Regions from separate parts of the Homo sapiens genome. Here all the other regions are linked to region 1. The links come from fine-mapping of genetic effects on gene expression. A gene starts in region 1. Each other region holds a variant in brackets. All regions are shown on one strand. Distances are from middle to middle.

Region 1 (4,182 bases):
TAGCCCCTGACAGTTGGGAAGCGCATCCATACCAAAAGGCCGCCCATGCTGTCCCCTCCGCAGCCCAACCCCATGCCGGCGCTCCATTTTGAGAGCCTCCTGCACTGGTGAGATCTTGGCTCCCTTGGTTAAAGGCGATTTTTTTCCCCCAGAGAAAGACACCAAGGCGATGAAGGGAAAGAATATCCTTCGCTCTGGCCGAGAGCCACCCGACCCCTAGAGCTGGCCTTGCTGCGTCCGAGCCAGCGCCGAGGCGCCAGAACTCTCCAGAGAGTGAGTCGTGGTAAGAGCTGGGTGCTCGTTCACTGCGGTTCAATTTTACGACTAGTAGGTTTCAAAAGTAAATGTTTTAAATTAAGGTGTGGGACTAGGAGGAGGTGTCCCATGTGGCACCCCCGGCATGAGGCTGGCTGCAAGGGAGCAGGGATGGCAGGGGCTGGGGCTGGGGGTTGTCTAATGCCGAGGCCAGCAGCTGGACTCGGCGTCCCTGGCAAACATCCTCCTCTGGTGGAATTGGGGTCAGCCAGGAGGAAAGGGGTGGCCTTTGGCGGCCGGGACACCCCGGGAGCCCGAGATCTGCATGTGCGGGAAGCGCCAATTTTACGCCGTGACTCTCGGACTCCACGAGCTGAGCTGCATCCTCCCGGACTAGGAACTTGTTGAACCAAAGGGTTCTCAACTCCGCAGTCGCTGCCTCCCGGCCAGGAGAGGGACCCCCACGCTTGCGCGGGAGCCTGGGGGCTGGGGCAGGGCCGGCGCCCAGCGCGGCGCTCTCGGGCACTCGCGGAGGCGGCGCCGCCCGGGAGGTGCTGCAGGAGGCAGCGCAGCTGGCAGCTAAACTTTCTCGAATCTCAGTGCTTCGCGGTTAAGTTAGGGCCAGGGAGAGGCACAAAACACGCCCGGGGAAAATGTAAGGCCCCACCCACGATAAAGGGGAAAAAAAAAGGATTTTAAACAGGAGACGCTAATCCAATTAACACAGTACCTACTGTGTGCGGGGCTTTGGACCAAGAGCTGTCTTCAGTGCGTTCTCATTTCACCTGTCACCACAGCCCCCAAGGGAGGAGCTGTCCTCATTTTAAAGAGAAGCAAACCGCGACCGGGGAAGGTGGCGCGTCTGGCCCAGGTCGCAGTGCGGGTCGCGGGGAGGCCAGGGCTCTCCTCGTCGCCCCATGGCCCTGGGAGGAACGAGCGGATCGCCTCCGCGTGGGCCCCCACCCTTGGCAGAAGCTCACAGGCGACCCACGTGGGCCGCACGGACCTGTTCCCTGAGGGCTGCCCAGCCTGCCCGCGAGGCCCGCCCTTGCCCGTCGGGTCCCAGCTGTCCTCGAGGCTCCTAAGCTACGCACTGCGCCGACCAGCAGGGACAGGGGGCTCTGGGCGTGGGGCTGGACCACCCACACCCACCCCGCCACCCCGCTCTGCGCACAGCTGCTCACACACGACACCCGCCAGGCACCGCTCCCCACCAGCAACTGCGCCCCGACACACAATTCCACAAACGCAGTCCAAAATGTGCACACCTAAGGCACACATGGATGCCCACGAGTACACGCCATTCGAAAGACACACCACCGTCCGCAGTCACCCACAACTCCACCGCGCAGAGAAACGCGGGCACTCCCGGACACACACACGCGCGCACAACACACACGCAAAGAGCCGGATCGCAGCGCTCGCCGGTGCACACGCCGGGTGCACACGCCCGGGGCACACTTCAGCAGCCAGCAGACCGCAGCCCGCCCCTTCCCTACCTGCTCCGGCGCAGGACGCGGTCCGCCGGCTTCCCGAGCCCAAGTTCGGCGCCGGCGGCGGCTGCAGCGGGCCCGGGCCGCTGCCCGGGACAAGCGCGCCGAGGCCGGGAGGAGTGACTAGCAGCGCGGGCCTCCGTGCGCCCGCAGCTGCTGCGCCGGCCCTGCGCTCATCGCCGCCCAGAAAGACAAAAGGAAGCCGGCAGCCAGGGAGGGAGCAAGGTGGAGGCGCCCGTCAGTCCGCCCGTCCGCTGCCCGCCGCCGCCGCGGCCCGCCTGCCAGCTCCGGGAAGGAAGGGACGCGAAGGCGGGACCTGGAGGCGGGACCCGGAGGCGGGGGCCGGGGCGGGGCGCGCGGCCAGAGGCGGGCGCTCAAGTTTCCTACGGCCCCGCCCCCTCCGGGCCCCGCCCCCTCCACGCCCCCTGCCGGACCCTCAGCGCCCGGCTCGGCCCTCGCAGCCCCTGCACCTCGCTGCTCCTCGGCCCTCGCGGCCCAAACCTGGCCCTGCCGGGTCCCAGCCCCCAGTGGCTTTCGGGACAGGGGCGGAGCCGGGCACCGGTTCTGTTCCCCTAACCCTTGGCCTCTGGCCTGCTGGTATAGAAGAGGCCGAGAGGCGGCGCCCGGGAGGGGCCAGCCCTGCGCCCGCGCCCCCCGCCCCCACGCCGCAGGAAGTGGCCCGGGCGGCCTAGGAAGGGGAAGAGCCGAGTTGCCCCAGCCCCGCACCCCCAGCCCCAGCCCCGCGTGCAGCTCGCACCCCTTCCCACGCCTGTTCGGGGGAGAGCCCCGGGCCTGGAGTGGGAAGCCTGGCTCCAGCTCTGGTTACCTGCAGTGACTCCCCAGGCCGTTTAGGCGAGTCCATTGGGCCGCCTCTGCCTCGGTTTCCCCACCTAACCACGGAAGGTGCTCCTCCCTTCCAGGCATCTGTGGTCTTCGAGCTCCACGCGGGAGAGGCGCCGGTCTGGCACCTCCTGCCCAGGGTCGGCGCCTCCTGGCTCTCGGGGAGGGGGGCATCCTCCATCCCCTGCACCTGCCTCGAGAGGAACCAGGGACAGAGCACCCCCACCCCCACCAGGAGCTCCGGAAAAACGGCTTCAGAAGAGCAAATATACACACACACCCACCTCCCGCCCCAAACATCCCCGAAGAAAGGTAACCACAGAAACAGCCAGAAATGTGGAGCTGGGCGATCGTATGAGGCTGAGACAAAACTGTCTTTCTAGCGTCTCTAGGGGAGAGCTTGAATCCCTCCTTCCACTCCTCCTCCACGGAAAACAGAGTGAACTCCTGCTACAGAGGCCGCCAGAGCAACATGCAAGACCAGCTTTGAGGGGAGCGGGCACAGGGCCTTGCAGGGAAGGTGGGCCGAGCCCAGACCCCTCATTCTTACTTGGCTCTGAAGGCGGAAAGGCAAAGCTAGACCTCGAGGAAGTTCCCCTCCCTGTGGGCCCTACAGTGAAGATTACATGAAGGCATGTGGGCGGTGGACCAGAGTGCACCGACTGATGAAGGCGGCCCGGTACCCGCGGGTGCCATGCCTCCTTCTTAGCCAAGGCCACTCTAGCTCCCCGTGAAGTATCCAGGTAGAAGGCTGGTGGGGTTACAGGTGAGAAGCCGTCGGTGGGGTCCAGGAGCCAGGCCTGGGGAAGCACACGTCACTTCCACCCACATCCATGGGCCAGAAGTAGTCGCACAGTCCCACCAGGATGCAAGGGGCTCTGGCAGCTGTGGTCTTCATGAGTGTTTCGGAAGTAAACAAAGCCGGTTTGATGAACACGTAGAAACATCCCTGCCACAGAAACTGAGCAGATTTCTCCCAAGCACACACAGGGCAAAGGGGCAAAGTCTGTCCACAGACTCACAGGAAGGGAGGTGCATGGCAGACACAGGCAGGAGGTGGGGTTGGGGTGGAAAAGTTCAGGGAGGGCTCAAAAGCAGACCAAGGCCTGTTTCTGAAACCCAGCCCACTCACTGGTTCCTCCACACTTGGCCCATGCTGTTCCTCTCCCATGTGACTTTTCCATCTTCCCCCTCCAACCTGTCACCCATCCATCCTTCAAAACTTAGGTCAGTTAGCTCTCACCTAGCCCTCAGCAGCTTAGCCCGCAGATGCTTCCTCTGTTTCTGAACTTCTAGAGAAACACACTTAACCGCAGACCTCTTATTCCAGGAGTGTATCTCTCTCAGATGAGATACAAGTTGGTCCCTTCCCTTGCGTCCCTCCTGTTCCTTCAAGAGGAGGACTGTCTACCCACCCCGAAGCTTCATGGAGAGAGAGCACACCGTCGTTATTCAATATGTAGTTTTGAATTTAACTAGAGCAAAGAAGAAAGCAAATTCAGGTAAGATGTTGTATAATTTCCTGGGGCTAATGTAACAAGCACCTCCAACTGGGCAACTTAAACAACAGAAATGTGTTGTTTTGTAGCTCTGG
Region 2 (4,182 bases), 80 kb before region 1:
AGCTGGGATTACAGGCGTGTGCCACCATGCCCAGCTAATTTTTGTATTTTTAGTAGAGACGGGGTTTCACCATGTTGGCCAGGATGGTCTCCATCTCTTGACCTTGTGATCCACCCACCTCGGCCTCCCAAAGCGTTGGGATTACAGGCATGAGCCACCGCACCCAGCCTGTCGCCTCTATCTTTATTTTCACATCTTTGATTTCAGTCTGCTCAGCTCACTTCACAATCAGAAAGAGAAGTCTTGAGGCTTTCTTTAAAAGTGCCAGCCCCGGCTGCCACTGCACTGTTTACTCTGCCTAGAACACTCCCTAACTCCCCAGTGAACTGCTCTTCCTTCAGACCCCAGCTCAGGGTCCCTCCCTAGGGAAGCCCCTGAAACTCCCAGCTGCTGGCTTTCATAGCACTGAGCACCTCCCCTTCATCCACTCTGCCACCGAGATTCCACTTTTCTGGGATTTGCAGATTAGCATCTGTAGCCCCATGGGGGAGGGGGCCTTGCCCCAGTGCCCAGCACAGCACCGTGCACCAAGCAAGCATGGCAGTTTGTGGAGGGCAGTAGTGAGTGTGAGCGAGGGGACACCACAGATGGTAACCTGGGCTCTCCTCTCTCCCCAGGGTGGGTGCCCAAAACCCTTCCCTCCAGACATCCCACGGGGATGTGTGGAGGGTGTTCTCTCCCTCCACCCCTCTCCTCCCACAAGGGGTATTTTGCAAGAACACCACTGGCAGCCCCATCCACTCCTAGTGAGGGGAAGCAGCTCATCTGATGTGACTGAAGAAAGAAATGACCTTCCTGCCGGGCCGCCACCTCCCTCACCTTGTCCCCACCCTGAGGGAGGAGGTCTGGGGTTGTTCTTTTGTCTGCCTAGGATTGGGAAGTTTATTTTAAAGGGTGGGGCAAGTATTAGGATGCTGATTCTTGCCATGGAGCCAGCTTACCAATCCAGAGCCACCAGCAAAAGGTGTGTGTGTGTGTGGGTGTGTGTGTGTACGCGATGTATATGCATGTGTAATTATATGTACACACATATAATTTAGTGACTTCAACCTGAGTGATTTTCCCGGGTACATTTGGCAATGTCTGGAGATATTTTTGGTTATTACAACTGGGGAGTTGAGGGGACATGCCTACCAGCATCTTATGGGTAGGGCCAAGGATACTGCTCAATACCCCACAATGCACAGGACAGCCCCCCCTTCCCCGCACACACCAAAGAATTATGCTTCTCCAAATGGCAACAGTGCTGAGGTGAGGAGACTCGACAAATATATTCCCCTACTGGTCACCTCTTAGATTTACCTTTTTTTTCTTTTCTTTTCTTTTTTTTTTGAGAAAGGGTCTCACTCAGGGCTGGGTGGCTCACACTTGTAATCCCAGCACTTTGGCAGGCTGAAGTGGGCAGATCACTTGAGGCCAGGAGTTTGAGACCAGCCTGGCCAACATAGTGAAACCCAGTCTCTACTAAAAATACAAAAATTAGCTGGGTGTGGTGGCAGGTGCCTGTAATCGCAGCTACTTGGCAGGCTGAGGCAAAAGAATTGCTTAAACTTGGGAGGTGGAGGTTGCAGTGAGCCGAGATCGTGCCACTGCACTCCAGCCTGGGCAACAGAGCAAGATGCGGTCTGAAAAAAAAGGGGGGTGGGTCTCACTCTGTCACCCAGGCTGGAGCACAGTGGCGCGATCTTGGCTCACTGCAGCCTCAACCTCTTGGGCTCAAGTGATCCTCCTACCTCAGCCTCCTGAGTAGCTGGGACCACAGGCACATGACACCACGCCAGGCTAGTTTTGTTTACTTTTGTAGAGAGGAGGTCTTACTATGTTGCCCAGGCTGGTCAGGACTCCTGGGCTCAAGCAGTCCTCCTGCCTCAGCTTCCCAAAGTGCTGGGATGACAGGCATGAGCCGCCGCGCCCAGCCAGATTCACCTTTTGACTAGTTGCAGACTCTAATGGTAAGGGGTTGCAGATTAAACCACGCCTCATTCCCAGAGGAGGAGTCAAAGGTGCTGCAGGGTGTCCCGCACACCACTGCCCTGGAGAGTGGTGCACAAGCGAGCCGCCACTCCCCTCCTGTTCTTAAACAGGAAGGAGCTCGAGGAAACGCAGCTTCAAGTG[C/T]TCAGGAAAAGGGCTGAGTGCCCTGTGGTGTGGCTGGGCAGAAACAGGAAGGTGTGCAGCCTTCACGGCTGGTTTGCTGTGGAGAGCACACTCCCACACTCAGCAGCTGCAGCCGGGCACAGGAGGTCTTCACTGGGTCCCACACGGGAGCAGGGAGGGGGTGGTGCATGCGGCTTCTCATCCAGAACCTCATAGAGCTGTTTGGTTCCTGCCTCTACTCTAGCTGACTTGCTTGGGATGCGTGGCCCTCCACGCAGTGCTTTGCATGTGGTCATTTCCCTTTTTTTTTTTTTTTTTTTTAATTAATGAACTTTATTTTTTAGAGCTGTTTAGTTCACAGCAAAATCGCGTGGAAAGCACAGAGTTCTCTACATACCTCCTGCCCTCCCTACTACCAGGGTGGCTGTTTGTTACAACGGATGAACCCGCCTTGTCTCTTCACACGTCATTATCACCCAAGTCCGTAGGTTACATTAGGACTCACTGCTGGTGCTGTATATTCTATGGGTTTTGACAACTGTGCAATGACATGGCTCCCCCACTACAGTATCACACAGAGCAGTTTCACTGCCTTAAAAATGCCCTGTGCTCTGCCTGCTCATCCCTCCCTCCCTCCTAACCCGTAGGAACCACTGATCTGTTTATTATCTCCATCGCTTTGCCTTTCCTAGGATATCATAGAGTTGCAATCCTCCATAGGCATAGCCTTTTCAGATTGGCTTCTCTCACCTACTCATATGCAGATGAGTTCCCCCATGTCTTTTCATGGCTTGCTAGCTCATTTCTTCTTAGTGCTGTGGAATAATATTCCATTGTCTGGATGCACCACAGCTAATTTATCCATTCACCTGCTGAAGGACACCTTCGCTGCCTCCAAGTTCCAGCTGTTATGAATAATCGTGAATAAAGTCGCTATGAACACCCATGTGCAGGTTTTTGTGTGGACATAAGTTTTTTTAACTCCTCTGGGTAAATATCAAGGAGCATGATTGTTGGATCACAGGGTAAAAGTGTGTTTAGCTTTCTAAGGATTTGTCAAACTGTCTTCCAAGGTGGCTGTACTGTTTTGCGTTCCCACCAGCAGTGAGTGAGGCTTCCTGTGGCTTCACATCCTCCCTCGCATTTGGTGCTGAGTGTCCTGGATTTGGGCCATTCTCATCGGTGTTTGCTTTGATTTACAATTCCCTGACAGCCATTTGTTTTTAAGCCACATTACTTTAAGATCACACAGGACCAATCTTTACTGTGAACCAAAGTCTCAAAATTGCCATCAGGGATCCCAAATGACATGATGCTCTGGCGGCGCAGAGCACCTGGGCAGGAGGTGATATAAAGGGAGGATACCCCAAGTTGCCCAGAAGACAGGCTGACAAACATTGTCCCTGTAGTCCTGCCTGATGTGACAACGCCCTGTCTACACTGGAACACGAACATCTCCACGCAGTGCGCATTACAGTCCAGAAGGAGCGTCGCATCCACTTTGTCACTTAATGCCTGGAAACCCAGACCTGAGGTGGGAGGAAACTTGCTGGAGCCACACAGCGGGAAGGGAGAGTCAAGGTCCCTGTGCAGAGCTTTGGCTGGGGCTCAGCAGAGCCACGTCTCTGTTGTTCAAAGCACAACGTAACATCCTTGTGGAATCTTTAAGGAGCTTAGATGCCTCCTTGCTTAGACTAAGGGCCTATCTGGTATTTCACAGATACATGCATCTCCTGGGTGGTGCCCACCTCAGGGGCACCTGCACACCTCAGACCGGGCCATCAGGCATCCTGGGGCCCCACTCTGCTCACCAGCCCCCATGAGAACTCCGGGGCTGCCTCTGTCCTGCACAAGCACTGATCCAGAGGTCCCAGGCCATCAAGATCCCCAGCGGTTCCCACACTTGAACTTTCTTATCAGGGTGGTGGGCTGGTCTTCAAGCTGGAATAGAAGTCTCATTTAGGCACTCTTTCGCTTATTCAAAACATTCTTAATTGGACTCCTACTATGTGCCAGTCACCATCCTAAGATGCAGCAGAGAACAAGAATGATTCCTGTTTTCAAGGAACCCGCAGTGTGATAAGTGCC
Region 3 (4,182 bases), 97 kb before region 1:
AGCCTGGGAGACACAGCGAGACTGTCTCAAAAAACAAAAACAACAACAACAGCAAAAGCTTCAGTTCCTGCTCTGAGCCTGGCGCCGGGCTTGGGTGCTGGATGGCAGAGGGAGACAGCATTCCAACATGGACCAGCAGCCTCAAGCCTCCAGCTTCCCAGCTGGGCCCCAGTTCTCTCCTGACCCTTTTCCCAAGGACAGAGAGCTGGGTTCCATTTACCCAGGGTGTGGCTAGGAATAATCCCATAACCAATTATTAGCACAGCGCCTAGAACACAGGAAGCACACAGTAATTGTTTGACGAGAGGCAGGAAGGAAGTCAAGGAGGGAGAGAGAAGGTCCGGGTGATCTAGGCGCTCCTTACAGACAACTTCCAAATCCTCTGCAGATCCGGCCTTGGAATAGTGGATCTTCGGCCACCGCGGCACTGTCTGTGCACCCTCCGAGAGCCCCATCAGACACATTCTAGCCCAGATAGTCTCTAGCCTCAGCAAAAGAGCCAGTTTCCCGGAGACCCTCTGGGGGCCTAGGAACACCCAAAAGAACAGATATTTGCTAAACATCGTCTATGATCCCAGTGATTACTTCTAAGCTAAAAATTTGCACATGGGGTCTGAGAAGTCCAAGAATATTCTAGGGGGTAACTGAGAGAAAACGTGTAATCTGGGCTGTCCCAGAAATACCAGGCCCTGTGCCTGGTGTGGTGCTGGATGCCTGGGGAAGGGGAGCAAAGATCACTGTGGACTCCACCTAGAGAGGCCGGTGACATGGGTGGGGAGGAGCCTGGCTGGCTCGGACCTGGCCTGGAGACCCGGGGCCAGCAGGCAGCAAGGTCAGGGGAGTGTCCTTGTGCAGCCTCGGCTGTGGCTGCCTGTGTGGCTGAGCAGACTAAGGGGCAGGTCAGCCGCCCTTCCTTCCACCTCTGCCTGGCATCTCCCAACCAGATGGGGAGGCTAGGCCGGTCTTGCTCATGTGGGATCTGGATGCAGCCCTTCACACAGAGCCCGACATGGAGCAGATGCTCCGGAGATGCTGACGGCTAGGATTCCCCCGCCAGGCACCTGGCGGTCCTGCAGAAGGGCCAGGACAATGTCCCCAGCCCTCCACCAATTCCAGGGCAGATGAGAATGCCAAGTTGTGCCTGCCCACAATGTGTGTATGTGTGTGCGTGTGTGTATGTGTGCATGTGGGTGTGTACGTGTGTGCAGGCACGTGTCTGCCCACAATGCTTGTCAGACAGGATCTGCCCTCCGTGGCTGAGGGCTGGAGGGGACGACCACAGGAAGTGATACTGCCAAGTCATCCCAAGTCACCCTAAATATAACCCTCAATGTACAACACAGGAGGATTGTCCCTTCCCCGCTGCCCTGCCTCATGACCAGCGTCTGCCTAGGAGGGCACTTCCAGAAAGGCCGCTCAGATGGCTCTCTGAGATGCCCGCCTGGGATCCACGGCCTGGCCAGCACTAGAGGGGAGGCAAGCCTGGGGTCCTGCTCTTCCGGCCCCAAATCTCCATGGCCCTGTTCATCTAACTTCTTCCAGAAGAATTGTTGGCTACACAAATCACTATGAGCAACAATGATCTCTTAAGCCTGGGAGGAGGCATCCTTATTTAAGGGACACAGAGGGCTGCCGTATGGTGGGGGTCTGGCTGTGCCGAGATGCTGCTCGCACCTGTCTTCCTCAGCGGTCGGGGTTGCCAGCGTCCTGCCCCTCAGGTGTGACCCACTCCGACCTGGCTGAG[C/T]CGCCTGCTCGCCCCCTCCTTGCCACGGGTGCACGTCTGCCACAGGCCCTTTGCACCAGCTGCTCCTTAGCTAGAAGCACGCCCGTCCCTGACCTCCTGCAGGCCTTTGGTCAGGTCTCATCTCAGGAAGGCCTTCCCCAAGCACTCTATCCAAAACCGACACTCATTCTTTATCCCCTTTCCAGCTTGATCCTTTCTCTCATTTCTGTTTTGTTGAGTTCACTGTCTGTCTCCCCTTGAGTGGAGCTCAAGGTCCTTGGGGCCAGGTTTACTCTGGTCTGTTCTCCATCAGAAGCCCAGAGCCTGGAAGCTTGTCTGACACAGGGTACGTGCTCCATGAACCCACCTCAAGGGAAGGAACGCATGAGTGTCTGGGGACGTGGAGAGGGAGGCTGGTAGGGGAGGCTGGGACTCGAGCCTTAGTATGCAGGTGCTGCTTCTCCACTGCCCGGGGAGCGGCCTGCTGTACATGACCAAGGGCCAGGGGCAGAGAGAAGCGGAAGGCCCTTCCAGTGCCCATCACCTGACCCACAACATCCACGGCCAATGGTGTGAATGTGCTGGAAAGTGCCTTCTGATCCCAGAGTCCCTCAACTCGTGGTGGTGGTGGTGGCGGTGGCGGTGGCGGTGGTGGTGGCGGTGGCGGTAGTGGTGGCGGTGATGGTGGCGGTGGCAGTGGCGGTGGTGGCGGCGGTGGTGGTGATGGTGATGGTGGCGGTGATGGTGGTGATGATGGTGATGGTGGTGGTGGTGGTGATGGTGATGGTGGTGGTGGTGGTGATGGTGGTGGTGGTGGTGGTGGTGGTGATGGTGGTGGTGGTGGTGGTGGTGGTGATGATGGTAGTGGTGGTGATGGTGGTGGTGGTGGTGGTGGTGGTGATGGTGGTGGTGGTGGTGGTGGTGGTGATGGTGGTGGTGGTGGTGATGGTGGTGGTGGTGGTGATGGTGGTGGTGGTGGTGGTGATGGTGGTGGTGGTGGTGGTGGTGGTGGTGGTGCAGTGATATTATTTGCTGTGCGTGCACTGAAATGCCCCAGGGGTCTGGGGATGGGAATGGACACCTCGGACCACCTCCTCTACCCTCTTCTGATCTCTTCGCCTGCTCCAGCTTCTTGACACGGGTATCAGCCTCAGCACGACCTGCCGGGCCAGGCGCCTCCCCTGTGCACCCGTGCTGACAGTGGCCTCGGGCCAGGACATTTGTATGCAGGTGACATCCAGGTAACACGGACCCAGATGTTCCCCCACTCTCTAGCTCCAGTAAGGCTGGTGGATGGAGAATGAAGGAGTGGAAGTGGCCCCTTCACATGCAGTTGTGTCTATTTTCTGCTGAGAAAAATACTTTTTTCTCAGCTAACCACACGCTAACTGGCACCCTGAGGCTGAGGCCCCAGCCTGGATGTCTCCTCCCAACCCAGCAGCTACTGTGGCAAGGAGAAAGCGGAAGGAGAAATCGCCTCCCTCAGGAAGAGGAAGGCAGGAAAACCCACCCCACCCACGGGATGCAGATCTAAGGGCGGGGCAGGGGACGGGCAGAGGGTGGGGAGCTCACTTTGCCCTGGAAACACCACGTGCGTGCGTTGGTGCCCAGCGGGAAAGCAGCCACGCCCGGGGTCTGCCCTGGGCCCTGGGCTGACCGGCTGCGGGACTCACATCTACCAGGGCCACAGATGAAACCTGCCACTGGTATCTGCCCTCCACCCCTCACACAGCCCAGAACCCCATCATGAACACTGAAATTAAGACAGTGATGCTTTAACAGGTTTTGGGTCCAAATTTTAGCCTGGCTGAGTATTCAAAGGTGGTTCCTTCTGAGTGGGAAGATGAAAATTATAAAGAGCATCTCCCGTGTCTAGGGCCAAGAAAATTCCAGACTTTTGGAAAGCGACTTTGTATGAGGACTTGGAGGACTTTAATCCTTATACAGGACCCTGCCAAACTCACCAGATGCAAGTCGGTGATGAGGGCTCTCAGGGGCTGGGCATGGCCAGATGGGGCTCTGTCCCCAAATGTCCCTCCCCCAGGTGTCCCCCCGGGAGCCTATGACAGCTGACCCTTGCTACATCCATGGCCCCAACTGATGCTCACAGTATGCAGGAGCAGGTGGGGCAGGGTGGTGAGTGACAAGAGTCACCATAATAGTCATGAGACCATGAGAGGGAGGAGGGAGAGAGAGGAGGAGCTGTGGGGCAGCCAGGTCCTGCTGGTCCAGATACCACAGGGACACTTCACTCCAGGTCTGATCTCGCATTGACCCTGAAGAGGGTGTTTTTATCAACCTTAATATGCACGAGATTGGAAGGGGCTGTGAAGAGGCACAGCCAGAATTACACACTCTCCAGCATCGCATACCTGGTTCCTTGCTTACAAACAAAACCAAACCCTCAACGCTGGAAGGGCAGCCCCACAGCATGGCTGGCAGGCTCTCCAGACCCGAGG
Region 4 (4,148 bases), 29 kb before region 1:
CTCCCGAAGAGCTGGGATTACAGGCGTGAGCCACCATGCCTGGGCCACCATTTATGAGTATTTCTAACACATAAAAACTAATGTTTTGTTTAAGGTTACGCACATGTGTAGCAAGAGCGTAAAACGCGCACAAATATGATCCCTACTTCCCTCCGCAGAGTGGCTATTGGTCACTGGGGAAAGAAAAGAGTAGAGAAGAGGAGAGATGGGCTTGGGCTGGCTCTGTAATGCTCTACTGGAATTTATAGTACAATCAATCAAAATAAAACAAAAATATGGTCTTATTTTTGCTAAAACATACCCACATTTCTGTTACACATATCTACAAAGCATCTGTAAAATCTGGACACAGATGACATTATTTTATTCCTTTACAGGTTGATGTTCTTGATGGCATTAGGTCTCTTCACCTATGTTTCTAGACTTTATGCACACTTCTGGAGAGGCAGAAATGAGTCTGGAGGGGTATAGCTCAGAATGCTAATAAAAGTTATATGGAGGTGGGCAGGGTAGTTATGGGGGAATTTTTTTCTCTGTTTTTCTGTGTTTTCCAGTCTTACCAAAGAGACATAGAATATTTGGGTAAAGAAATAAAAACTTTCTTCAAAAATCAAATCAAACTCAAAGCCAAAATGGCCACAGCTGAACACCAAAGCACACCAGCTCTGAGAGCACAGAGCAATTCCAGGAAGGTTTGCCTGGGAACACAGCTGCCCACGTGGGAAGAGAAGGTGCTGGGCCACAGGAGGCTGGCTTAGGCTGGCTTGGGCTACGGTGATACATCTGCCAGCAGGATCCCGAGAGGTGCCAAGAGGCTGCAGCCCACCCATCCCTGGAGGGAATGGCCTCCTGACTTTGCTGAAAGGAGGAAGTTGTGAGGCCAGGCTGGCTCCTTGACCTCCAACAGACAGCAGGGGTCAGATGGAGAAACGTTACACCAGTTCCCCAAGACAGACACAAACATCCACAATTCACTGTGACCACCTGATTCACGCTCCTTGGTAATTTCCCGAGTCTCTCCTGTGAAAATGCATTAGTTTTATCGTAGGGAAATTAGTAAACTTTAAAAAGAGAAGAATCTTTGTCTAGCATTTACAATGCCCAAGAGGCTGATTAAAGACCCAGTGCAGAGATCGTCAGCAGGTCAGGCCCCTGGTGGCAGCGTCCAGGCGTCATGGGGCTCAGGCAGGGCCCACTGTGCCCCACACATCCAGTGAGCCCTGAAATCTCCCACAGAGCCCCAACAAAGACCCACCCTGCCCCTCCCCCCTGCACCCCTCACCCCAAGATCAAACTTCACTCAGGCTCCTCTGAGCCCTCTTTCTGCCTCCTGTCTTCAGCCTGCCTGGCCCAGTCTCAGCAAGAATCCTGCTTAGTCAGTTTAGTGAGCCTCTCACGCCCTTCACATCTGACCACCCTTGAGATCCAATCAGTCCTCATCCCCACCTTTGACATCAAAGTCCCCCCCTGCCTTTGGCAAGAATCCCCCTACCTGTGATGTCTTCTCGCAGCTACTTTCCACTCACCCAGCCCACTCCACTTCCCAGCTCTGTCCCTTCCTTGCTGTATTAGGAGTTGGGCTGATCTCTCCCCTGCTGATAAGGTCAACCCCGACTGCATTTTCCTCGAATAAAGCTGTCCTCACTGTTTTAACAAGCGTCTGACTCTTATTTTCCTCCAAGCCTGCAGCCCAGCTAGGGAGTACAGGGGCCCGCTTCACCCCTTCCCTGCACGGCTACCCCCCACCTCCCACCCTGCCTTGCCCACCCTAGGCAGAAGCTGTTCTAGATAAGGGGCAGGGGGCACCGAGGGGCTTCCTGAGAACCGCAGAGGGGCGGGCCAGGGGCTAGAGAGGAAGGAGGAGGGTTCTAGAGAAAATGGAAACCTGTGGGCAGATGGAACTTTGAAAAAAGGAGAACATCATGATGCAACTCAAATGAAGCTTAAATGGAAGGAAATGGTAAATGCTCAGATCAGATGGAGAAGGAGGGGGAAGAAGCTGA[C/T]GGGATCATGGGTGGGTGGAGAGAGCAGTCAGGCTCTGGGCATGACCTCAGCCAGGTCGAGGTACTTCCCCTCTGAAGCCACTGTCCTGTGATCGTCCCCAAAAGCAGGAAGGGAGAAGCAAAGTGAGTACACCTGACAACGGGTGACAAGGAGCGCTCCCTCTGAAGCAACAAGTGACACAGGGCTCATAAATGACAATGGGTGACAAGGAGTGCTCCCTGTGAAGCAACAACAGGTGACACGGGGCTCATAAATGACAATAGGTGACAAGGAGTGCTCCCTGTGAAGCAACAACAGGTGACACGGGGCTCATAAATGACAACAGGTGATGAGGAGAGCTCCCTCTGAATCAACAGGTGACACAGGGCTGTCTCGTAAATGACAACGGGTGACAAGAAGGGCACCCTCACCACACACAGGCAGCAAGCCCAGCTGGGGCCACCACAGGATTGGCCAATGTCACCAAGCAGTTGATGGCGGCTTGTTTATGTCCCCATCCACAAAAGACTAGAAACACCATGCCAGACGGGGAGAAAGATGCATGCGGGGGAAGAGACAGATGCCTCTGACAGCCGGGCGTGCAGTGGGGGGCAGACAGCCTCACACCCATCCCTGGACCCCGGGCACAGTGCAGCTGGGCCCAAAGCACACACTGACTTCAGCGCAGCTCCACCACCAGCCAGCGCTTGGCCGTGGAAAAGCTCCTGGGAGGGTGTTCCTGCCCCGGAAAACCTCGCTGCTGCATCCGTTCCACCAGCAAGGTTTCCTGAGTGTCTCCTGGGTTCAGAAACGGTGTCCTGTGGGACAAGGGACATGAAGAAAGGAGCCAGCCCCGTGCCTGCAGAACTCCGAGCTCCCCGGGGAGACAGGAGGAAACGCAGGAGGAGGGGTGACGATGCGTAGGTGGCGAGGTGAGGAAGGAGAGGGCGCTCGGGTGACAGGAAGGGCGCCTGTGGGCTCAGGAGGCAGGAGAGGCGGACGTGCTGAGTAACAGGCAGCCAGCACCCTGTGGCTGGGCCGGGGGCACCTGGGGGCAGGCAGGAGAGTCCAGGCTGTCCCCAGAGCCCGCCCCGCCCTCTGCAGGCTCTTGGCAAGGCCCGCATGCAGTAAGAGGGTGCGGTCACTTGCAAGGCTTAGAGAAACCGCTCCTGCAGCCGGGAGAGCAGATGGGAGGCCACGAGATGGAGCGAGAGGCGGGATGAGGAAGAAGCCAAGATGGCAAGACACAGAGAACTGGAGAGGCCGGGGCTGCAAAGGAGGCACAAGCAACAGGCTTCCCGCTAAGGCTCTCCGAATGCAGGGGTGGGCTTGCTGCACCCCCAGGCTGCACCCAGAAGCTCTGACTCAACCAGCACGGTGTGGGCCTGGGAACCTGCATTCTCACAAAGATGATCGGGGTCCGCAGTCGGAGACACACTGACAGAGAGCCCCTGCCGTGGGCAGGAAGTGAGTTAACGTGGACTGAGTGTGTCCCCCACAAAACCCCTATGTGGAAGCCCCAATCCTTACTACCTCCAGATGTGACTGTATTTGGACACAGGGACTTTGAAGAGGTCATGAAGGTAAAATGAGGTCACTGCGTGGCTCCTGATCTAGGGCTGGTGTCCTCACAAGGAGACTGGGACTCAGACACACTCGGAGGGATGGCCGTGTGAGAACAGAGGGAGAAAGGGCTACACGGAGCCGAGGAGAGAGGCCTCGGGTGACACCAACCCTGCCGCCACCCTGTCTCAGACATCAGCCTCCAATACTGTAAAAAAAAAAGAATTCCTGTTGTTTAAGGCACCCAGACTATGACCCCGTTTCCAGCAGCCAGAGCTGACTAATACACCGGGAAGGTTAGACGACTCAGGGCTTGGTGGGGAGGGGCAGGGTGGCCCTTGCTCCAAAGCTGCTGCCCTTCGCCACTCTCCTATGAGGACTAAATAAGAATAAGCATTCTGGGAATTGCAAACATCCACCAAAAAGTCAGGAATTCTCCTTTTGTCCATGTCAGAAGCATCTAGACTGGGACCTTCTGAGCACGACTCACCAGCCCCCATTCCCTGTGGCGCCGACAGACAGCCCCGAACACAGCATAAAGGCCGCTCTGAAAAAGAAAGCATCTCTAGCTTGCCACATAAATTGTGCATAGTCTCTAAAAG
Region 5 (4,182 bases), 130 kb before region 1:
GCCTTGAACTCCTGGTCTCAAGTGATCCACCCGTCTCTGCCTCCCAAAGTGCAGGGATTATAAGCATGAGCCACCACGCCCAGCCAACAGTAAACTTTTTGAACATGAAGACATTTGTCAACCAAAGGAAACACACAGTAAAACTATGAGAATCTATTTCTCACCTATCAGATTGGCAAAGACAAGAGTTCCCCAGCTCGCGGGGTGAGCAGGTGTGCTCAAGCACTGGGCGGAAAAGTAAATTAGAGCAACAGTCTCTTTGGAGGGAACTTGATAATATCAATAATCCACATTATCTTTGACCCAGCAGTTCTAAGAATTTCTCTGATGATACTCTTCTAAAATTATTCATTGTGGCATCATTTGTAAACAATCTCTTGTACACAAGCAGGTACTGATGAAATTGTCAATGGAACGGGATATACAGTGGTTAAGGAATGAAGCAGATTCATCAGTACTGATAAGGAACAAGCTCCAAGCTAGATTCAGTGAGGATAGCAAAGCAAGGGGCACGTGTAGTATGCTACTGTGTGTGTAAAAAGCAAAATCAAACCCCAACAAACTGTGTGTGTACATACATACTTGCATATGCATGGCATATTTCTGGAAGAGCTTGTAAGAAACGGGTAACAGAGGTTGCCTCTAGGCAGAAGAACCAGAGGCCTGGGCCGAGAGTGGGGACTGGCTCCACACTGCGCTTTTGATATTGGAATGTATTACTGACTTTACGAGGATTGTAAAATAGGTTTCCCGCGTGAAGACATAAACTCAGAGATGAACTCAAGTCACGCAGATAGTGAGGCAGCATTCAAGCCAGGTCAGAGGACCCCAGCATTCATTCGGTGTTTCCCTACCCTGGGAACATGCTGTTAAGCAGCTGGAGGGTGGCTTGGGCAGTGGACTGGCTCAGGGGGACATGGTAGAGTTGCTCACGACCTGGTCCTCACCTTTGCAGGGTCCAGGAGGGCTGGCTCATGCCAACCCAGCTCATGAGGCCGACGAAGGCAGCAGACCCATCAGAAGCCAAAGATGGGAACATTCCTGGCACATCAGCAGGTGGTCAACCCCTCCCTCCCCGACAGTGTCAGGGCCAGGCACTGCCCCTCACAGATAGCCTGCAGCAACCAAGGGCAGGCCAGAAGCCGGTGGGCAGAGCAAGCCACGTGTGCCCCCTGCGGCCCTCTTGAGCCCTGGCTGATGCCCACTTTGCACTTTCTCGTGGGTAGGGCCTGCCCCTTCCCGGGCCTCACTCGGCTTGTCTTGTGAAGTCATGTGCTCGTCACACCCCAGCAGTGACCTCTGCTACTGGGACCACACATCTCTTCGCAGGTTCCCTCCTTACTAGATTTTCCTAAGTGACTCGAAGTGGCTGGCTAGCCCCTTCCGCTTAGGGGGTTTTCTGGCTGTCACCCTGTACCCTCTTTGACATGGGCCCTCCCCCATGCTGGATCTGGGGGTTTGCTTTGCACCATCTCTGGGCCCGGCTGGAAAACTGCCCCTGAAGGCAAGAGTCGACCCATTTCAAATCGGGCTCTGTCCCCACCAGGGATTCCCGAGAAGCCTCAGTGCCTGGGGGTGAGGGGGGCAAGTGGGGGGCTCTGCCTTCTCCGCCTCACCCAATCTCACCCATCGGGTTTCAAGGTAGGACGTCATGTGAAGCAAAGGCTTTGCAGAGTTCTCCCAGTTCTTGTTTTTTACAGATGGGATGAAGCCCAGAGAGGCCAAGTGACTCGTCCAAGGCGAGTCTGTAAGTTAGAAGGAGGGCCTGGGTGTCCTCAGGGCCCTGCCTCGCCAGCCAGCTTCTGCTCCTGGGCTCTTGCTGAACAATGACCATGACTAGAATGCGGCATCCTTCTCTCACCAAGGGCAACGTGTTCCCGGCCCCTGCTCTCTGCCAATCCTATTCCCTGCCAGGGTGGCAGAGGCAGCCCCGAGCACCCATGGCTCCGGAATACCACAGACGGTGGCACCTGGCCCTGCATTCCTGCTGTGGCTTCAGCTTCGGCTGGAGCTGGACAGACGAAGCTGGACCCAGGCCCCACACCTCACTAGGCACTAGCCAGACCCAGGCCCTATGCCTCACTAGGCACAGGGGTCCCCACGGCCGCCTCCTTCTGAGTGGGGGTTGAGCTGGTGCCCCCCACCCACGGCAGGGCAG[CTACAAGGGAGGAT/T]TGGTGAAGGCCCGAATGCAGGGCACAGAGTGGAAGCGCCTCCGGAATTCTTGCTGCTGTTGGGAGTTCGGAGAATTTTATCCACATGCAGCACTGACTCCAGGCTGGAGAGGGCTGTGACCAGGCGTGCTCTGCCACTGGCCAGGGGTTACCTAGGTGGAGCTCAGTCAGGTGACTTGTGGAGCTCAGGCCCGTGAGCTTGTGAGCTGGGGAGCGGGGGTCTCCAGGCTGGGCCAGCTCGGGGGTGGCTCCGCAGGGGAGGAGACCTGGTGCCCTGCTGGGCGAGGGTCAGTCTGGGCCTGGGTGGTTCCGCCAGGAGGGTCATGCACCTGGCCCTGGGGGTGCCTGTCAGAAGGCCTGGCCCTTCCAGCTTCTCACCCGCCCCAGGGCTGTGCAGGCCCCACTCCCTGGCTTCTCAAGGAGGGTTGCCAGACTTAGCACAAAGATAAGATACTGCACGGGACATATGTCAGCTGCAAAATTGCTTCTCGTTGATCTGAAATTCAAGTGTAACTGGGTGCCCTGTATTGTATCTGGCATTCCTATCTGGCAATAAGGCCTCTGGTCCTGGGTACCGGGAGCCTGGCCTCAGCTTTTGTGTGCCGTTTGGCCCACCACAAGTCAGGGGCTCCTCTGGGCCTCAGCATCCTCCTCTGTCATCAAATGCCGCCCAGGACAGAAAGCTTTTCTCGAAAGCAGGCCCAGCTGGAACCCGCACACCCAAGCCCTGGATGGCCCTCCTAGCTATGGACACCAGGGGGCAGCAGCACCCCGCGGTGGCAGCGCGGTCGGGGCCAGGAAAAGGCAGTCAAATCACTCGACCACTGGGCAAACACTGATAGCTCCACTATCGCAGGGGGCCCTTGACAGCCACAGGGCTGTGAGACTGGAGCGTGGCCTCGATCCAGAGCTCCCGACTCAGCCACTCCAGGGTCCCGGGGGCTTTGAGGAAGGGGCACCAGGCAGCCCAGTCCCCGACCAGACCACTCCCCTGACCCCCAAAACACTTCCTGAGGCCCCCCAGGTGAAGCCCCCAGCCCAGCCCCTGCACCCCTGCCCCATGTTGTAGAACCAGCCCTGTGTACAGCTGGTGGGGCCCTGCAGCCTTGGTCCTGCCTGTCCCCCTGCCCGTCCCCGAAGTGGCCCCAATCCCCTCTGAGGTGTTCCCAATCCTCCCCTGTGCCCACCAGCGACTGGTGACCCCACCCGGCCTCCCCTGACCACCCCCCATGATAGGCTGAGTGGGCGGAGGGCAGATCTCCCCCCGCCACCCCTCCTGTGGGGCTGGTGCCTGGCACCTGTCCCTGAGCCAGAGGCAGAGCCCACCTGAGGCTGCCTGTGCCGCCCTCCCCATCCCCCACACACTACCACACATGCAAACACACCACACACATCCACAGCGCACACTAAGACCACATGCCCCAGCCTCACACACACCCCACAAGACACCCGCACACATGGCTCCCATGCTCTGCCATCCCTGCCAGGGTGCCTGACCCTAACCCTGGGGCCCCCACCTTCGGAGGTCCCCAGGAACCTGGAGGTCAGGTCCTGCCCCTGAGGACCCTTGCCATTCCCCTCAAGGCCCTGCAGCCCCTCCCTCTGCCCCTGGTTCCCTGACCACATGGTTTACAGATGAAGACACAGCGCTTGTCCAGTGCCAGGCGGCTCATTCGAGGTGGAGCTGGGACTTGGCCTGGGTCTCAGTGTGTGTCCAGGGCATAAGCTCATGCGGTTCCAGCTGCGTGAAGACAGAGCAGAGCCACCTGCTGACCCTCCCTTCATTCATTCATCCCCACTCATTCCTGAGCAGCCTCGCAGGGCTTCAGGGTGGAGACGACCAGAGTAATTTGATGAGGTCACCGAAGGCGACCTCTGGAGGAGGGGACATGGAGGCCTAGGACAGGCCTGGTGCAGGGAAGCTCAGTGTGGAGGGAGGCCACTGTGGGCCCAGGTGGGCCAGGAAGGGGAGCAGGGTGCCCAGAGCCCAGGCCCAGCCTCTCAGGCCACG
Region 6 (4,182 bases), 87 kb before region 1:
TGAGCCCAGCACTGCGAGACCAGCCTGGGCAACATAGTGAGACCTCATCGCTACTAAATAAATAAACAAGCTAGGCATGGTGGTGCATGGGGGTAGTCCCAGCTACTCAGGAGGCTGAGGCAGAAGGATCACTTGAGCCCAGGAGTTCAAGGCTGCAGTGAGCTATGGTCATGCCACTGCACTCCCGCCCGAGGGATAGATCGAGACCACGTCTTAAAAAACAACAACAGCCTGGCATAGTGGCTCATGCCTGTAATCCCAGCAATTTGGGAGGCCAAGGTGGGTGGATCACGAGGTCAGGAGTTCAAGACCAGCCTGGACAAGATGGTGAAATCCCGTCTCTACTAAAAATACAAAACATTAGCCGGGTGTGGTGGCACGCGCCTGTAATCCCAGCTACTCCGGAGGCTGAGGCAGAGAACTGCTTAAACCTGGAGGGGCAGAGGTTGCAGTAAGCTGAGATCGTGCCACTGCACTCCAGCCTGGGCAACAGAGCGAGACTCTGTCACAAAAACAGCAACAAGACCCCAAAAATATAATGAAAGATGCCAGACACAAAAGGACAAATGTGGTATGATTCCATCTATATAAAATGTCCAGAACAGAGACAGAAAGTAGATTCGTAGTTTCTTGGGGCTGGCAGAAGAGCGGATGGGGAAAGAGGGGCTAGCAGGTAAAGGGTACGGGTTTCCTTTTGGAGTGATGAAAGCACTCTAAAATTGACCATGGTGATAATTGCACATACAAGTGAATATGCTAAAAATCACTGAATTGTATACTTTACATTGTATACTTTAAATGGGTAAATGGTAGGGTATGTGAATTACATTTCCACAAAGCTGATTTAAACAAAAATAATAAAAAGGAATCTAAGTCAATATCCTCCTACTCCTATATGCCAGTGGACAGGAGAGCAAAGAGCAGAGTCACAAGAGCAAGGGGACAGAGTGTAGAGCTTCCAGGGGACATAACAGGTCTTAGTGCTTGTCACCCCTTACAGAGGGGAAGGGATGGATGGGTACCAACTTAGCTGACTGCAAACCCCCCTGGCAGCCTCAAATCCAGGACTGGGCCCCCAGGAAGGTGCTGGAGCTGAGCTATAAAACTGCCTTGGAGAACTCCCCAGCAGGCCCTGCAAACCTAGGCCGAGTGCCCACCATGTGTGTTAGGTACAGGGACAGCGTCCCCACCTTTGAGAAGCCCATGGCCCAGTGGGGTGCATGCAGATTAGTGCTGGGCATCGGGTAGGCAGTCAGACATAAGCTCTTAAGATCTCTCTGCCTTCAAGAAGGTGATCCAGTCCACTGAAGGTGGTGCCGGACCCCAGGCCCTCAGGAATATTCATGTTCTCTAAGGAGTTTAGACTGGAGGAACTCTCCGCTCAACTCCAGAAACAGCCCAGGCTGCCACCATGGGCACTGCAGGTCACAGTGTAAGCAGGTTATGGTTCCGGGGCCATTTCTGGGGTCAGTTCCTCCTTCTTGGCCCAGTCCCAGGCCGGGGGGTGGGGTGCATTCGGTGCCCATTTCCCTCACTGGCTGGTCTTTGGGAAAGGGTACTGGAAAAGCTTCTTCCTCCCAGTATCCAACCTCTTGCCCAGGCGCAGGCTTCACATGCTCACTGGGACCTGCAGAAAACCGGAAGTGGCCTCTCCTGCTTGCTCATAGCAGGCAGATGTGTGCTCAAGAGATGACAAATTATTTTAATATATTAGGAAATCCAACATAATTACAAAGCAAAGTCCCTTAGGGAGAAAAAATTATAATGGAGTCTGAAGTCAAAGATGGATGGTTTTGGATTATGACTATTTTGGAGGTGACTGGTTTTCAAATGACTAATTCCACTGTGGCC[T/C]CCGGGTGATAAGCACAGTTGCTCCAAGAATACTGTCACACAGACGTTTTGCACAATGACCTCTCTTCATAGAGGCATTTTCTTCCATTGTTCAATTCAAGAAACTGAGTTACAGAGGAGCCTATGTGTCCTGAGGAGACCACCAGGGTGGGCTGTGGTCTGAGACCAGACACAGAGCACAGGGTGGAAGCCAAGATGTCCACATGAGACCATCCAGGTTGCAAGCTTCACACAGGTGAAGGTCTGGAAAGACCACCCAACACCTGAGCCGCGAGTGGTCATGACTAGTGCCCAGCACCAAACCCCTGGTTCCTGGGGCACTGGGAACTGACTGGCAGGGATCCCTGACTTCCAGAGAATGTGCAATGTCTTACTGTAGCTCCTGCTGCCACTCCCACTACCAGGGCATTTGAGCTCTTGTCACATAATAAAAGGAATCTACTGTCTATGACCACTTTGAAAAACTGGCATATTTACTAAAGATGACCACACACATGCCCCGTGAAGCAGCAGCTGACCTCCTTCATGTATGTCCAACAGAAAGAAGGACACATGTCCAAGACAAAGCATGTGCAGGAACACTCAGAGCTGCACAATTTGTCCCAGCCCCACCCTGGAAACTATCCAAACATCCATGTACATTCCACGGGCAGAGAAACTGGAGTACAGTCACAACAGAGTCCCATAAAGCAATCAGAATGAACCTCAGTGCCCCACACAACAGATGCGTCTCACAACCGCAGTGTTCAGTGAAGTCAGACACGAAGCCTTACTTAATACTGTGTCTTCCTCCAGGCCACTCTAACAAATTACCATAGACTGGGTGGCTTCAATAACAAACATTTACCTCTTACAGTTCTGGGGGCTGGAAGTCCAAGATCAAGGTGCCAGCACAGTTGAGTTCTGGGGAGGGCTGTCTTCCTGGTGTACAGATGGCTCCTGATCTTGCAGGGCAGGTGAGCCCCCAAACTGGGACTTAGCCCAGGAGGGTTCTTGGCTTCACTCAGGAAAGAATTCAAGGGTGAGCCGGTGGTATTAGCAATTTTACTGAAGCAGCTGTGCCCAGCGGCAGCAGAGGGACTGTTCCTTGCGGGGCAGGGCTACCCCACAGGCAGTGTGCCCAGAGCAGCAGCTCAGAGGCGGCACTGCAATCAGATTTATTCCCACTTTTAATTACATGCAAATTAGGGGGTGGATTATGCAGAAATTTCTAGGAAAAGGGTGGTAATTTCCAGGTCGTCAGATGATTGCCACGGAAAGGAGCCGTAACTTCCGGGTATTACCATGGCAGTGGTAAACTGACATGCACACTGGTGGGCACGTCTTAGGGAAAGCTGTTTCTACCCTGGCCCTGTTGTAGCTAGTCCTCAATTTGGTCTGGTGTCTGAGTCCTGCCTCTGGAGTCGAGTCCCGCCTCCTACGTCACCTTCTCATTATATACTTGCCTGGTAGACAGCAGAGGCAGGTCTGGCTCGCATCCTCTTCCTATAAGGGCACTAATGACCAAATTACCTCCCAAAGGCCCCGCCTCCTAATAACATCCTACTCGGAGTGAGGGTCTCAGCACAGGAATTTGGGGGCACACACACAATGGGTCCACAGTACACACCAAGATGCTGCAGCGACCTGGACTCTTAAACACTGACGAGGCACTCACAGCTGCTGCTGGTGACAAAGATGGGCCTTCCCAGTAAGAGACGAGGTCGGCAGGGAGTGGGACTTGGGGGCTGGGGATGGAGTTTATATTTCATTTTAAGCACAATTGTTGTAGGAAAACTTTGAAAACCAGAGAGTGCTACAAAAATACCAGGCACCAGGGAGAGAAATCGCAGGAGTCCCTGGACCTGGGGGCAGCAGAGACAGACGGGAGACCGTGAGACCTGCAGTCTTCTCCCAGTGACAGGGGTGGGGTGGGGACAGGTCACCTCGAAACACGATGTGTTGTCTTGAGACTGAAACTTGTTTGTTCACTCAGGACCTTCCATAGGCAGGAAGGAAAATAAAACAGCTCACTGCTCACTAACAGAATTCTGGAACCTCCCGAGCCCAGTCACTGCCACCCTCACCATGGCTCCCAGATGCCACTGACCTTCTCAGGCAGCATCTGAGGCACTGAGGCACCTCCTGTTCTGGAAGGAGGAAGATAAAACAAACCTTTGCCAACATCAGAACAGTGAGGCAGCCACAGGGGAAATGCCGACGGCCCCGGGGAGGCAGGGAACAATAAATCCGCTCCCAATCCAGTACTTTCTATTTGGGGAGCCTCCTACCCTGAGACACGCCAACTGTCTGCTGTCTGTCTTGGCCGGACAACGAGCCTCTGACCTTCTC
Region 7 (4,182 bases), 110 kb before region 1:
CGCAGGCTGCCTCACAAGAAACGGGGGGCGGGGGGAATGCTGCATGCTGCTGTGACCCCTCTGTCATTCATTAAGCAAAGGAGCCAACCTTATTGGTGCTTGGCTGTCTAGTAAGACGACCGAGCAAAAGCAAGCCTTTCTGCAGAGACAGAAAGCCACCACTCACGTTTCCCAGCAGAACAGCCACCTTGCTCCAGTAATTAGGCAAACCCAGCCTTCATTTCTCAGGAAGTCTTTCATCTCCAAGGAGGATGGTGGGGTAAGAAATGGGAGGCCCAGGGGAGGGCAGTCTATTTGAGAGCAGAACCATCTCCTGCTCGGCTTAAAAAGATTCATATTCAAGCAAGGCTCGGATCAAACTAGTAACAGCTGTCTGAGGGCATCAGAGATGACGTTGTAATTCACGGTGATGGAAACATGGGAGAGGGAGTTAATGAGTCACTTACAGCCACCTCTGTGGTTCTCAGTTACCCTGCTATTGTTCTTAATCTGCTGAATTGTAAAAAAAAAAAAAAAAAAAAAAAAAGAAGAAGAAGAAAAAGAGGAACAAGGAAAGAAATGTAAACATGCAGCTGGGGAGCCCTGTGAGAAATAGTTAACCCAGAGTCGGTATTGCCTGTAAATTAAAGCCTGTTTAGTGGCACAGTTCTAGCAGCTGCTCAGTGAGGCTCCTGGGAACCGAGGGCTTGATTGTCCTGTTAATCCCACCTCAGTGCCGGCTGACGGCATTGGTTGGCATCTCATCCCATTGCTCCAAAATGCTTTCATCAGTCAGATCCCCGAAGCTTGCCAGGCCAACCAGACTCTGAGATGCTTTGAGGGAAGGCGACCAGAGAGGTGGGAAACACCAAATGCTTATGAGAGACCCAGGCTGGCCGGGGCGCCGTGGCTCACACCTGTCATCCCAGCACTTCAGGAGGCCAAGGCAGTGGATTGTCTGAGCTCAGGAGTTCAAGACCAGCCTGAGCAACATGGTGAAACCGTCCCTACTAAAAATATAAAAAATTAGCTGGGTGCGGTGGCACGCACCTGGTAGTCCCAGCTACTCGGGAGGTTGAGACGGGAGAATTGCTTGAACCCGGAGGGTGGAGGTTGCAGTGAGCTGAGGTGGTGCCACTGCACTCCAGCCTGGGCAACAGAGCGAGACTCTGTCTCAAAAAAAAAAAAAAAAAAAAAAAAAAAAAAGACTGAGGCTCAGGAAGAGGCTGGAGAGGCGTTTGTTGTGAATTTGAACTTCAAGGAATCAGAGGGCTCAGGCCATTTGAGATGAGAGCTTGTTCTTCCTGGGGTGGAACAGGAAGGTGGAAGGCAGAAGGGGCCGGTGGAAGACAAACAGGTTTGTGCTCTTTCTTATCCAGCACCCAACCCAGTTCTTTCTCCCGGTGACCGCTGGACCCACACGGCCCCTGCAGCTAAGCCCCTCTCCTAGGGCTGATTGCATTTTTCAAAACAACTCGGGCCTGTGTCCTTCTTTCCTCCAAATAAGCAAGTGACAGTCAAGCTGCCTGCAGCCTTAGCTTCCCGGTAGTTCTCCAAGGAGGGGCCCGTTTTGCCCCTGGGTGATTGCGGGGAGGCTGTGCCGGCTGCCAGGACCCAGGTGCAGGGAGGAGCCGATGCATCTGGGACCATCCAGGCTGAAGTGTGGCTGGGCCGACGCTAGAGGGAGCTGTTGAACAGGCTCCCAGGGCCTGAGCTGAGACCCCGCCCCTCTCAGGTGCCTCCGTGTCTCCACCTATAAGCTAGGGCTGCTTTGTCCACTATGGTCACAACCAGCCACACGTGGCTACTGAGCACATAAACCGTCGCCAGTCTGAACTCATATATGTGCCCTTAGTGTAAAATACACGCCGGATTTTGACGACTTCATATGAAAAAAAACAACATAAAATATCTCATTAATACTTTCTCTTTCTTGATTACATGTGAAATGGTAAATGATACCATTTGGGATCTAACGGTTTAAATCAAACAAGTTTTAAATTTCATCTTTTTTACTTTTCAATGCGGCTATAGAAAAAGTTACAATCACATAGGTATGTGTCTCCCACTTTATTTCCCGTGGGCAGTGCTGGGTAGAAGTAGCATTCAGTGGGTGATACCAGGGACCCTGGATCTGGGGCTACCAAACAGGGACTCTTCAAGCTCATTAGCACCCTGTGGTATCCTTTATTTATTCACTCCTTAGTGCCCTTGAGTGAAAGATCATGGCGTTTGTATTTCATAATTACCTGTGAGTCCCACACGGTTCTCTTTTCAGCAGGG[A/G]GGGCTAGCCTGAGAACGCTGCCAGAGGCCAGCTGCAGTGAGGACCCCAGGTCTGACCCCAGCTAAGGAATGAGGCTGGTGGGGAGGGGCTGCAGAAGGAAAAGGTTCCTCCTTCTCTTTGGAGCTGGAACAGCCAACCCTGCTGAGTCAGATCCGGGGAAAGAGGAGGTTAGTAACACCTCTAGAGTGACAGTTCCAGGGCGTGCCTGCACCTAAACCCAACCCACTGACCTAGAGCTCATTTCTGGAGGCCTTCCTGAAAGCTGTTGCATCACGGCATTTTACCCACTGGAGGGGCTCCAGGCCAATGACCTGTTGTTGAGAAATCCAACCGAAACCTTCTTGACTTCTTACCCATCCCCAGCCTCTTAAACTCCCCACAACTCCCCAAAACCTTACAAGAAAAACATAACATATGAGAAGAGAGAGAGAGAGAGACCCAGCAGGGCACAGAAATCCCCTTCCTCTACCAATCTCTCCTTCTTTTCCACCCTCTCAAGGCTGAAATGCCCTAAATGAAGCTGGTGAGAAGGAAGAGGTGGAGAAAGGAAAAGGGAAATCCCCAAGAGCTGTACTTTCTCTTGCAGAAGCTGCTACTGCGACAGGAAGAGGAATGTGTGGGTGGCTGTCCCTGCACACCTTGTGCCTCTGCAGATATGAGTTCACCCGTGTGGCACGCTCGCCTCAGCCACCCTGCCAACCCCTACTCATCCACCAAAGCCCAATGCAAAGGTCACTCCTCAGGCTTGCCTTTCCCAGCCCCTACAACTGCTCTTCCCTTTGAATTCTAACAGCGTTTTTCTAGTATGAACTCAGCTTTGAACGCGTCACTTCTTTGTCTTTTTCCTTCATTAGACTGGGAGCTCCTGGGGGAAGGAGAATCCTTCATTTGTCCCAGTCAGAGAAGCTGCTCAGCGTGTTCCAGCCTCAGGGCCTTCGCACCTGCAGTTCCCTCCACCTGTCTGCTCTTCCTTCCCCTCAGTGTCTGCAAGGCTCACTCCCTCCAAGTTCATGTTCTTGCTCAACAGTCGTGGGGAAACCTCCTCCAAGGACCCACCTCAAAGAGCATCCACCCTCACCCTCTGGTCCCTCACCCTGACCCCTTTCTCAGCATTTCCTGCCACCTGGCACTATATTTACAAAATCTCTTGACTGTCTGCCTCCTTTTGTTCACCACTGTACCCCCACAGGGCCCAAAACAGGGCCTGGCACACAATTCAGTCAATAAATATGTTTGAATGAATGGTTGTGTATTCCAAGCGCCTAGCACAGTGCCTGAGCAAATGAACAAAGCAATGAGTGAGTGGTTCTTTTTCTAGGATCCCTCTTATTCTAACATTCTGTGACTCTTCCAGTTTTAGGAATTGCTGGAGGAAGGTCAGGGGTTAGGATGGTCAAGTGCTCTCCTGCTCAGATTTGAAGCTGCTCCAAGAAGGCACATTCAGACTCGGTATTCTGGAAATCTCTGTTTTCTGGCATGGAAACAGCTGCAGCAGAGTAGAGTTTTGGGGCCATGCCAGACTTGGGGGTGTCCATTTATCAAACTGGTGCCAATCTCCTTCCCAGGTGAACACATCCCAGCTATATGGTCCTCAGCCAGTGGGGTGGGGGACAGGATGGGGGACTTCCTGCTACTCTCCAGTGAGATCATTCCCTGGACCAGTGCGGCGTCATCATAGAGCGAACATCACTCCAGCTTGAGTCTTTGGAGAGGAGCTCTTTGAGCTGCCTCCCAAGCAGAGAAAGGGAGGTGAGTGAAACGGACATACATGAGCCTCTGGGGAGAGAACAGGGAGACAGGAAAAGGGAAACGCCCAAGAGAATGCTCCCCTTCCGTCCGGAACCCTAACCCAGCAGGAAAAGGAAGCTCAAAGGCAGGACCAAAATGAGACCATAGACTTTCTGAAAGCAACCCCCGAC

Which allele goes with the higher level. Positions count from the first base shown, and alleles are read on the strand shown. Sizes are in standard deviations (SD) of each study's normalised expression. Not every link is listed here.
For the expression in whole blood of the gene that starts at base 2,028 in region 1, G is the high allele of the variant in region 7 and A is the other (small effect, 0.35 SD a copy in GTEx).

What was found. PIP is the estimated chance that this variant, and not a neighbour inherited with it, causes the effect.
Region 2: its variant is fine-mapped to the expression of HPCAL1 in whole blood (INTERVAL, PIP 0.93).
Region 3: its variant is fine-mapped to the expression of HPCAL1 in whole blood (TOPMed, PIP above 0.99).
Region 4: its variant is fine-mapped to the expression of HPCAL1 in whole blood (TOPMed, PIP above 0.99).
Region 5: its variant is fine-mapped to the expression of HPCAL1 in whole blood (TOPMed, PIP 0.99).
Region 6: its variant is fine-mapped to the expression of HPCAL1 in esophagus mucosa (GTEx, PIP above 0.99).
Region 7: its variant is fine-mapped to the expression of HPCAL1 in whole blood (TOPMed, PIP above 0.99). The same link has a PIP of 0.9 or more in NK cells, monocytes, monocytes after LPS, monocytes after interferon gamma and neutrophils.

The regions. Positions count from the first base shown.
Region 1 is chr2:10,300,750-10,304,931 of GRCh38, reverse strand. HPCAL1 (hippocalcin like 1) reads right to left here and starts at 2,028. Exons shown (of 5, transcript NM_002149.4): 1 at 1,755-2,028. LOC101929691 (a long non-coding RNA gene) reads left to right here and starts at 2,215. Exons shown (of 4, transcript XR_922791.3): 1 at 2,215-3,354; 2 at 3,919-4,090. RefSeq lists silencers at 1,134-1,313, 1,632-1,829, 1,714-2,493 and an enhancer at 1,394-1,453.
Region 2 is chr2:10,380,827-10,385,008 of GRCh38, reverse strand. The region is part of intron 1 of HPCAL1 (hippocalcin like 1); the gene reads right to left. Among named protein-coding and RNA genes, the nearest start is that of SNORA80B, 64 kb to the left of the region's middle. RefSeq lists enhancers at 1,407-2,060, 2,061-2,716. The variant C/T (reference allele first, on the strand shown) is at 2,116.
Region 3 is chr2:10,397,767-10,401,948 of GRCh38, reverse strand. The region is part of intron 2 of HPCAL1 (hippocalcin like 1); the gene reads right to left. Among named protein-coding and RNA genes, the nearest start is that of SNORA80B, 47 kb to the left of the region's middle. The variant C/T (reference allele first, on the strand shown) is at 1,745.
Region 4 is chr2:10,330,099-10,334,246 of GRCh38, reverse strand. All of the region lies in intron 1 of HPCAL1 (hippocalcin like 1), which reads right to left. Among named protein-coding and RNA genes, the nearest start is that of HPCAL1, 29 kb to the right of the region's middle. RefSeq lists enhancers at 2,047-2,634, 2,464-2,663, 3,194-3,293 and a silencer at 3,034-3,083. The variant C/T (reference allele first, on the strand shown) is at 2,004.
Region 5 is chr2:10,433,866-10,438,047 of GRCh38, reverse strand. No RefSeq gene overlaps it. Among named protein-coding and RNA genes, the nearest start is that of SNORA80B, 11 kb to the left of the region's middle. RefSeq lists enhancers at 2,805-2,854, 3,499-4,182. The variant CTACAAGGGAGGAT/T (reference allele first, on the strand shown) is at 2,159.
Region 6 is chr2:10,388,094-10,392,275 of GRCh38, reverse strand. The region is part of intron 1 of HPCAL1 (hippocalcin like 1); the gene reads right to left. Among named protein-coding and RNA genes, the nearest start is that of SNORA80B, 57 kb to the left of the region's middle. The variant T/C (reference allele first, on the strand shown) is at 1,852.
Region 7 is chr2:10,406,781-10,410,962 of GRCh38, reverse strand. All of the region lies in intron 2 of HPCAL1 (hippocalcin like 1), which reads right to left. It overlaps LOC124905972 (a long non-coding RNA gene), which reads left to right. Exons shown (of 3, transcript XR_007086211.1): 2 at 2,850-2,994; 3 at 3,118-3,505. Among named protein-coding and RNA genes, the nearest start is that of SNORA80B, 38 kb to the left of the region's middle. RefSeq lists a silencer at 1,645-1,774 and enhancers at 1,634-2,246, 2,247-2,858, 2,106-3,305. The variant A/G (reference allele first, on the strand shown) is at 2,263.